2 separate regions of the Homo sapiens genome follow, and region 2 is linked to region 1. A link means that fine-mapping ties the variant in region 1 to the plasma level of a protein whose gene starts in the linked region. Region 1 holds a variant in brackets. A gene starts in the other region. All regions are shown on their forward strands.

Region 1 (5,390 bases):
AACAGAATGATCAAAGAAAAAGGTGGTAGTAAATGAGGTCAGATAAACAGTAAGAGACAAGGGATTTTTAGGTCATCTAGAATTTAGATTTTTTCCTGAGAGGGCAGAGGAGCCACGAGAAAGCTCTGAGATGAGGATGAGATGATCTAATTCAGGTTTTAACTGGATAGTTCAGAGCAAGAGTGGGGGCAGGGAACCAGTGAGGAGACTGTGGCAATAATCACGAAAAGTGGTGCAGCGGCTTGGACCAGGGAGTTAGCAGTGGAAGCAGAGAGAAGTGACAACACTCTGCATATGGGAAAGGGTGGGCAGGAGAGAACAGTGCCCAAGATGATCCAGTATTTTGGCCTGAGAAGCTGGGGAAAAAGAAACAACAACAACAACATCAGTGGAAGGGGTTTCAGGGAGTCCAGGTGTTCTGGTTGCAGCTTTGTTTTGCCTTAAAAATATTTGAGTACGTAACTAGTAATGGGATTGCTGGGTTGAATGGTAATTCCGTTTTTAGTCCTTTGAGAAATTGCCACAGTGCTTTCCTTAGCAAACTAAGGCAGGAACAGAAAACCAAATGCCACATGTTCTCACTTGTAAGTGGGAGCTAAATGATAAGAACTCATGAACACATAGAGGGGAACAAGAGATACTGAGGCCTACCTGAGGGTGGAGGTTGGGAGGAGGGAGAGGATCAGGAAAAATAACTAATGAGCACTAGGCTTAATACCTGGGTGATGAAAGTATCTGTATAACAAAGTCCTGTGACGTGAGTTTCCCTAGGTAACAAACTTGCACATGTGCCCCTGAACTTAAAATAAAACTATATACATATATATACATATTAGAAAGAATTATACTTTTGAGTTTTAATAGCACATTTTCTGTAAGATTTTGCAATTTAAACTTCACTATATTTTATATAAACAATTAAGAGTTGAGTTGACCTTGATATTACATATTACAGATATTTTATTAACATCTATTAATTTTTAATTATTTGATTTTTTCAAAATTTCAAATAATATACCTATTTTTCAGATTTCAGGCAGGCCATTGAAAAGCTCCTAGTTCTAATTACTGTTCCTGTAATGCTTTATGAATATAACAGTCCGGCCTTTCCTCTTAGAGTTTGCAGTCTAAGGTAGAGAAATATAATAAAAGAAAATGCATGAATTTTTAACTAATATGGTGTGGGTTCTAAAGCTCAGATAAATTATTTCGTTTAGTTCTCACAACAACCCTCTGATGCAGGCACTATTATTTCCCCCATTTTAATAATGAGGAAACTGAAGCACAGAGAGCTTGGTTGACTTGCCCAATATTACCACACTCTGTGTGGCTAAGCTGGGATTTGAACCAAGAAAACTCTCTTCCCATAGGTCGTTGAAAAATTATGAAAGGTTAAGCCACCTCTCTGCTTGTGTTGCCTATTTCCACCATGTGAGTCCAATGTGTGGTGACAGAGAAGGGTAGATGTTTGGCATCTGTGAATTCTGTGGATTGTGTGTCATGATTCTTTATTTCTGTCCTCTGTATCCTGAATTGCCACTACCCTGAGCAGGTGATAAGAGTAAAATTCCATTACATTGGTCTTGAGGGGATGGGCAAACACTTTGGACTCTCTTGATATTCTAGTTATTAAATATTGCTCAGCGTAAGTTAGACAATGAATGAGACTTGTTGATGTTTTCATTTCAATTTGTCTTATAATGATCTGTGCTCAACATGTAAAACCAATAGATGTAACACCTTTGGAATATTTCTGAGTAAACATGGGGCACCAACTCAAAGAGCAAGAGGTAAAAATGCCTAGTGTGGATCAAAATCTACTCTATGACAGGGAATCTCATGGGCTCTGAAGGATTCTGGTCACATAGGGAGTAAATAGCAGACTCTCAATTCAGAGTCAGATGTGAGTTCACACGCAATGTTTTGGGACTTCATCCTGTCTTTTCCCTGCTCTGGGAGTCATAAGAATTAAGTTCTAATCCTAATTCTGTTGTTATCTACCTGAGTGACACTAATTAGATATATAACTTCTCTGAGGCTCGACATTTACATCTACAAATAAAGAAGGCTAGAATACTAAAGCCTCTTCTATTTCTTCCAATTATTGATTGTATCGGCTCTTACTCTATAAATGGTTTCTTCTATTTTAGGGAAATTAATTATTTTGTTCTTATGGTGTTGCTGGACCTGTTGCTTTTCATTGCTGTAATTACTTCTCTTTGTTGAAGACCTTTGCCAGACGAAATGTGATGGGTGTATAAGGCTCTGGCATTTTGCCCAGGTCTGTAGCACATAGAATTCCACTAATGGGTCTGCTGGGCATCTGAGACCACAGAGCCATTTGTCATAACATGACAATTCCAGTTGGGCAGGGATAAATGTTAGCTTTAACGATTTTGGACCAGAGTTTGTCTAGAGAGAGAGCAGAGTACAAAGCCAAAAGCATCATCTTTAGAGCTAAGCAGGCATGAGTTCAAATCCCAACCCAGCCACTTACTAGATATGTAGCCACAGCCACCGCCAAGTCTCAATTTAAATGTCACTTTCTCAAACAGGCCTCCTAGGGTCTCCCACGTTGGCTTAGTCCAGAATACTGGTTTATCCTTACGGTATAAAATTTATTCCATCATTATGCACCAGTATTTAATAAATGCTGAGGAATGTGGAACAAATATTTGTTAAATAAAAAGTGACTTAATCCTTCTCTGTCTCAGTCCTCACTTCAGTGAAGTGGGCAAAAGGGTAGAACAAGTTTCCTGTGCAAAAAGAATCAGGTCAAAGTGCCCTAGAAATAGCAAACACTGTCACAACCCTAGATAGCATGATTACAATCTGAAATAAACTAGTTCAAAAAGCAAATCTCAGACTCAAGTGGGGCTTTTTCTAGTTTAGAACTTGGAGTTAGAAGAAGAAAGAAGGGGGCTAAAGTGTGCTGCGTGTCTAGATGTGCCAGGCACTGTACGTAATAGAATGTCACACATTTAATATTTGTCTAAAAGTGTGAAAGTGTGAATTTCCATAAGAGGGACACAGGTTCTTGG[T/C]AAAACCAAGGTTTGCTCTAACTTTTCACACACTTTGGCAGACGGTTTTGCCTTTTTCTCCTAAGTTGGAACTTTTGAGGCCATTACTGCCAGGAGGGAAAAGTTAGTGATGCTTATCTATGTTCAGAACTAGAAAATGGCCCCTTCTGGTCCCCAGTTTGGCCCCATTGTTATTCACATGCTGCCTATAAAAAGACAAAACCTCCAGAAGGTGGAAAAGATGAATATGCAGAATGCTACACATAGATACTCATGTAGGTGAGATGGCGAACACAGCAGATTTAGGTCTACCAATAAGATACTACCCCATTTGGGATGACACACCTTCCTTAGAAGTGACAGTGGCAGAACATAGACAAAGGGACTAATTAAAAGTATGTGGGTTCTGCAGATTGCATCTGGAGTAAGAGTCCAGTGATCTAAATTGTAGGCCAAGGCCTCTTGCTTGCTAACATCCTCTGTCTGCCTCAGTTTTCTTACCTGCAAAATGGATCACTGAACATCACATTTCTCTTTATTAATTTATTCATTCACTGAAGAAGCAAGCTGTCAAAAAGCAACTGCTACATATGTCAAGAAAGATGCCAGATGCTAAAATAAAATACAAAAATTTGATTACTACAAATTGCTACCATCGAGGAGTCATAGTCTAATGAAAGAGAAAAACATGAGAGTGAATAATGAAGTCAGCAAAAAGTTCAAAAGAAAAATAAATAAAAGGCATAGATATTAAAAATGAAGAAGTAAAACTATCTTATTCAGAAAGGATATGATTATGTACGGAGAAAATCCCAAAGAATCTACAACATCAGACTCATCAGTGAATCTAGCAAGATCACTGGATACAGTTTATATATAAATGTTATCAATAATTGTATTTCTGTGCCTGACAACAAAAAATTGAAGACAACTTTTAAAACAACAATGTTTATAATGACACCGAAAAATATCAAATTAGAAGTTCATGTAAATTGTAGTTTCCAAGAGCTCCCGCTGGAAATTGGAAGCCATTGTTGAAATAAATTAAAGAAGATTTAAGCAAATGGAGAGACTTACCATGGTTATGGTTCGAAAGACTCTACATTGCTAAGATGCAATTTACTCCAAAATTGTCTACAGATTCAATACAATTTCAGTTAAAGTTTCTGAAACTTTCATTTGTTGTTGTTGTTTTTGGAATAGACAAGCTGATTCTGAAGTTTATATACAAATGCAAAGGACGTAAAACAGCTAAAGAAAATTTGCAGAAGAAAGAAACTAAAAGAATTACACTGTCAGATTTCGAGACCTACTACAAAGCTACGATTATTAACACAGTGCATATTGGTACAAGAATAGGCAAATAGACTAAAGAAACAGAAGACAGAGTCCAGAAACTGAACTACACATACACGATCATCTGATTTATTACAAAGGTGCCAAGGCAATTGAGTAGGAAGAGAACGATGTTCTACGTAAATGGCAATATTGAGTATCTGTATGGTAAAAAATAAATCTTGGCTATATGTCATATAATATGGACAAATTAATTACAAATGTAGTATACACCAAATGTGAAAGGTAAAACAAAATAACATGTTAAAAAAAGTATAGTATCTTACCTTGGGATAGCAGATATTTCTTAAACAGGACACAAGAAGTGAAAAGGCAAGCCACAGCCTGGAATAATAATTTTATCATAATATATGTATATGTTTCTATCTGAGAAAGTACTCATACCCAGAATACATTAAGAACTCTTACCAATTAATAACAAAAATGTGTTATTAATATATACATATTATGTATACATTATATGTATCATATGTATATGGACCATGCACATGATATGTATGTATCATATGTATATGGACCATGCACATGATATGTATGTATCATATGTATATGGACCATGCACATGATATGTATGTATCATATGTATATGGACCATGCACATGATATGTATGTATCATGTGTATATGGACCATGCACATGATATGTATGTATCATGTGTATATGGACCATGCACATGATATGTATGTATCATGTGTATATGGACCATGCACATGATATGTATGTATCATGTGTATATGGACCATGCACATGATATGTATGTATCATGTGTATATGGACCATGCACATGATATGTATGTATCATGTGTATATGGACCATGCACATGATATGTATGTATCATGTGTATATGGACCATGCACATGATATGTATGTATCATGTGTATATGGACCATGCACATGATATGTATGTATCATGTGTATATGGACCATGCACATGATATGTATGTATCATGTGTATATGGACCATGCACATGATATGTATGTATCATGTGTATATGGACCATGCACATGATATG
Region 2 (5,390 bases), not on the chromosome of region 1:
TTGCTGGGTCAGTCAATTTCCATGTGATCTTAGGCAAGCTGTATAATTCTTTGGGCCTTGGTTTTCCCATTTGTAAAATGGAGATAATAATAGTTTATATCTCATAGCTTTGCTGTGAGGATTTAATAAGTTAACATTTGTGTTTAGCACAGCACTGGAGAAATAGCAGATTGGAGGAACTACAGAAGTCCTAACTAATACTGTTGTGGTTCTGAAAAAGCAGCAACTTGAGGAGCTCTTGAAAACCTAAATAGTATTTAAGGCCAAGAGTATCTGTCTATTGTCAGGATCACCAGAAAAAAATGTGAGAAGCAACTTCGAGGTAATGCTGCATTTCAGCATGCTTTACCCCGAATGGAAATGTAGAGAACCCAGGCAGGCCATGTTTTCCAAAGAGCAGGGGATCAACTTGTTCTTGATGGGAGGTTTAAATCTTAGTAAAACCATAAATAAGGCCACAGTCATGGACTTTGAACACTAAATCAGATGAAATAACTTGTAACTTCTTCCATGTAATCACAAAAGCTAGAAAATAAATTATTAGTAATTTATTTTAAAGATGATTGCCCAATTGACATTGTTTTTGAAAAAAGATATTAAAAATTTATTAAACTATAATTTTATTGTTAATTATTTGAATTCAGGAAGATTATTATGGTCACTTCTATGAGATTTAGTTAATCTCCACTTCTTTCTACCCTGTAATTTTATTAGTTATCTTAAGACAGTTTCAAATTATTTCATCAATCTTCATCTTTGCTTTTAATTTATGCAGCAGAATTTACTTGTTCATTGGTATGAGTAATTTTCAATATTTTGCCAAACAGCCTGTGGCAACTGAAAACACAAGTTGCATACATTAGACTTTTCTTTTTGAGTGCAATGCAACAAAAACAAATTATGTTGCAAACCCAACTTCATTGAACTGCAGGCACTCATAACTAATTAAAAATACTTTTAAAACATCTGTATTTATGAAAACAAATTTGACCAACATATTTGGGAGGCAAATAGTAGAGCAAAGCATATCTTATGACTATAATAATTTTTAGTTGTACTTTACTGTTATTTATGTTTTTTATCTCCCTACTCTGACAAAATGCTTTATATATCATTTAGTCCATCTTGTTCTAGAACCTACTATAGTTGAAACCCAATAAACAGTTGTAGACCAATTTTCTTACTGTTATATACTCAGATTATGCCTTAAGTTCACCCTACAAGTAAACTTTCCGTCAATTTCATAGTGTTGTGAAAACTCTCTAGTAGCTCAGAACGTTCTTGGTGGTCTCAATATATTAAAAGTATGCAGTCAGATACTGATGGCCCTGAGTCCTGCAGACAGCTAACAAAGCTGAAGCCCACAGGCTAGTGAGCACCAGCTGAGAGCACTTTCTATAGAGTTTGTGGGCAGTCCAAGAGAGACAGGATCTGAGATGTGATGATATGTCCTCTGGCAGCAGCAATATCTGATATTGAGCTCTGCTAGGTGGTGCTGAGCGTGGACACCTGCTTCCTTCACCGGCTGCAGAGAACACAGTATCCATTAAAGGAGCTGAAAGAGGTGCTAGAGGAGTTTACATGGCAGGAGTCCAGGAAGCTCTGCAACAGTCCAAAATGAGGTTGGGACACATGATACACTTGTTCATCCCTATTCTCTATCTTCACACATATGCATATCAGTCCTTCCGTGGCTGCTATATTCTTGTGGTGAGATCCAAACCAGCTGCAGTCTTGCTCTCCCAGTGCATGCTCATTCTGCAAATCAGAGCTTCAATGTATTGCTATGAAAAATTCTGACTGGTCTTGAAATCCATTGACACCATCACAAGAAAATTCAACATGACATCGTCATGAACAGAAATGGATGATGGCTTCATATTCTTAAATATAATTTCCAACTATGGTGAAATTTTGAATGGTTGTAAAAACTGTTTTTGCATTTTTATACCTCACTTATTTTGTTAATGGAGACTATCTAGAGTTTGATGTAATTCTCATCAAAAAGTCCATCAGTAATTATTTCAAATATAAAACTGATATCAAAAAATTGAGTTAATGAAAATAAACTCAAATTTTTCATAAAAATATGAAATTATATTATACGGAACTTTATGTACATGGAAAGTGAATAATTTCTATTATTTTTCTATTTGATATTTATCATATTTATGTAATTAAAAACATAATTAAATTTTAAACTAAATTAAACTGCGCTCCAGGAAGACATCATTTTCTCTGAACCATGACTCTGAAAATTTGGAAAGCACCGTACAAGAGGGATTTTCAGTGATTCACAAGAGTGCAAGATTCTGCAAAGTACTTTCAAAACTAAGCGTGAGATCTTTGCTACTGCCTTTATGGCATGCAAATCACTCAGCCTCAACTCAGTTCCTTCCTCCAATGTAAAAATACTACAAGAACAACATCTCACGCTTCCATCAAATGGGACCATGTGTGATATTTTACACTGGACTACACAATAGGCTGGAAAAGTGATCCGCAGAGAGGCTCATTGCTCTAAGTTCACTCCCTGTACCAACTGTCTTGCACAAAGCTGCCACCCGGGTGTCTTCTTCCAACATTTCCCCTAGTTGGACTTCAAAGTTTCCTTCTTGCAGCCTGTGCGGGGACCAAGAGGCCGGTCTAGAGTAGCCGCCCAGCATCCAGATCCGACATCCTTTTCCCTTTCCTCAGGAAGACTTGGATGCGCGCCAGCCCAGCCCGGGTCTCCAGGTTCAGCTGCGGAAGCTTCCCACATGGTGCCCGTCGCTTGGGATGCGGCTATCCTTGTGCCTTCTCTGCAGGTGTCCCGGCAGGTAGAGGAGGAGACCGGTGGCTGGTGTTCCTGCAGGGCGGGGCTGGGGCTCCTCGATGTCCTTGCGCTTGCCCTGCAAGTTCTGCGCCCCAGGCCCCGGCAGGGACGGAAACAGGCCGGGAAGCAGTGACACCTGGGGCAGTCAGTCATCCAGGAGCCGCCGCCACCCGCCCCACCCCCAGTCTCCGCGGGAGGTGTTTGTCTTCGCCTATGCTCCCGGCTCTTTCTCTTTCACTTTTCTTTTCGCCAGGGGTTGGGACTCCGGGTGGCAGGCGCCCGGGGGAATCCCAGCTGACTCGCTCACTGCCTTCGAAGTCCGGCGCCCCCCGGGAGGGAACTGGGTGGCCGCACCCTCCCGGCTGCGGTGGCTGTCGCCCCCCACCCTGCAGCCAGGACTCGATGGAGGTACAGAGCTCGGCTTCTTTGCCTTGGGAGGGGAGTGGTGGTGGTTGAAAGGGCGATGGAATTTTCCCCGAAAGCCTACGCCCAGGGCCCCTCCCAGCTCCAGCGTTACCCTCCGGTCTATCCTACTGGCCGAGCTGCCCCGCCTTCTCATGGGGAAAACTTAGCCGCAACTTCAATTTTTGGTTTTTCCTTTAATGACACTTCTGAGGCTCTCCTAGCCATCCTCCCGCTTCCGGAGGAGCGCAGATCGCAGGTCCCTTTGCCCCTGGCGTGCGACTCCCTACTGCGCTGCGCTCTTACGGCGTTCCAGGCTGCTGGCTAGCGCAAGGCGGGCCGGGCACCCCGCGCTCCGCTGGGAGGGTGAGGGACGCGCGTCTGGCGGCCCCAGCCAAGCTGCGGGTTTCTGAGAAGACGCTGTCCCGCAGCCCTGAGGGCTGAGTTCTGCACCCAGTCAAGCTCAGGAAGGCCAAGAAAAGGTACCGCAGCTCCCCACTTCCTAACTGCTCCCGTCCCAAACTCATTGTGGGCCGGTGCAGATGTCTGTGCGTGCGCGTCTATCCCTACCTTTGCAAAATCAAATTATCGCCCTCTTCTTTGCTTGCACACGTCTTCTGGGAGAGAAATTTGCAGGAATGGTCAGTGCTTGGCAGTCAGGCCTGGGTCTGTATTGGTTCCAACTCTGCGCCAGCCAGTTATCTCTTAGAGAAGCGATAGTGTATCTAGAATGTCGAAGGAACTTGGAAAAAATACGAGCGAATTTCACTGAAATAAAATCATTATTCAAGGTGGCTTTTAAATGAAAATCCAGCCAATTTTTTCAAGTGTTATTAAGACCGCATGTAGCAAGGGTATATAGTTCATTTGACTTTATGTAATTCCATGCATTAAAAACTATGTTGACTTCAAAGTATGTCTAAACCAAACTAATTCTTAAATGATGCTTACAACAGATTCTTAAATAGGATGAGTCAGCAATTTCAAAACTGGAAGTAAAGTGGTGGTCACCAGCTAGTTTCCATTATATATTTTTAAACTACTATCTAATATTATGATACTGGTGGTGGCCAACTAAGTGGACGTCATCCTTATCTTGTCAGTGTGGTGAAAGAGGCCATATTAGCTAGGCTGAATTTTTGCTCAGGTATTACAGAATAAACTGGTGATTATGCATCCTGCCATGTAGAGGTTATAAGGTGAACCATTCTACTGAAAGCATCAAGATACAATACACTTTTGGAAGGCCGAGGCGAGAGGATAGCTTGAGACCAGGAGTTCCAGTTTATAGTGAGCTATATGATCTGCCACTGCACTCCAGCCTGTCAAAAAATAAATAAATGAATAAAAAAGATATAATACAGGTTAAATTTTTAAACTCCTGTTGTTTTCGTGTGAAGTAATGTGGCCAACAGAGCAAGGAAATACATGGGAAGGAACATAAAGACATATAAAGAGAAGAACTGAAAATACAGCAAAAGCCATTTAGATTTAAAAAGTGAAGAAAAAGCTAGTTTTGCTTAAAGTTAACAAGTATCATAGAGATCTTAAGGTTTGTTATGATTGTCTTAGTTTCGGGTCCTTATTCGTGTAAAATTCTCACAGAATTTTAGTCAATCAGAAAAGTCTCTCCTGCAGTATCATCTGCTTTGCAACAGTGACAGAGAAGGGTCAGTTGACCATTGGTCTGGAACTTCTGATAGGCAGGGTGTTCCCATACTTTTGGTTTCACTGTTCCTTGCTGATTTGGAGTGGCAACTCCAGAACCTGATTGGAAGCTATAGTTCTGGTTGGAATTTTCCTGCAGACTACTGGTGATTAAAATGATGCTCTTTTGTTTTAATCCATGAAATTAATGTAGCCAATGTCAACAGCTATATTGCAAGGCACAATGTTTATAAATTTCCTTGGGGGATGGAGAAAACAGTGGTTTAAGGTTTATCGAAATAGATTTTGGAAGTGGAAGGTTTTAAAGCCTACGGGATACTCCATCTCAGATTTGCTGCCTCTGATGAATTTCAGGACAGCTAGAAGAGCAGCCCTGAAATGCTGGGTACATGTGGATTTTTCTCAGGAAAATATCCGTAACTTTGATCAGCTTTTTAAATGGGTCTCTGACCCAAAAGAGTTTTAAATCTTTTGAAAATATAGACTACTGTCCTTTTCCCCTCAT

Alleles and levels. Alleles are on the strand shown, and positions count from the first base shown. The strength of an association depends on the size of the effect and on how common the allele is.
For the plasma level of the protein whose gene starts at base 3,058 in region 2, allele T in region 1 goes with a lower level than allele C (weak association).

What was found. PIP is the posterior inclusion probability: the model's chance that the variant is causal. The UK Biobank Pharma Proteomics Project read protein levels with antibody pairs (Olink). The fine-mapping took linkage between variants from a reference panel, not from the people measured, so its PIPs are less certain.
Region 2: IL15 starts here. The variant in region 1 is fine-mapped to the plasma level of the IL15 protein (UK Biobank, PIP 0.96).

Annotation. Positions count from the first base shown.
Region 1 is chr8:127,198,521-127,203,910 of GRCh38, forward strand. No RefSeq gene overlaps it. Among named protein-coding and RNA genes, the nearest start is that of CASC19, 3.6 kb to the left of the region's middle. The variant T/C (reference allele first, on the strand shown) is at 3,042.
Region 2 is chr4:141,633,526-141,638,915 of GRCh38, forward strand. It overlaps IL15 (interleukin 15), which reads left to right and starts at 3,058. Exons shown (of 8, transcript NM_000585.5): 1 at 3,058-3,223. RefSeq lists an enhancer at 2,971-3,060.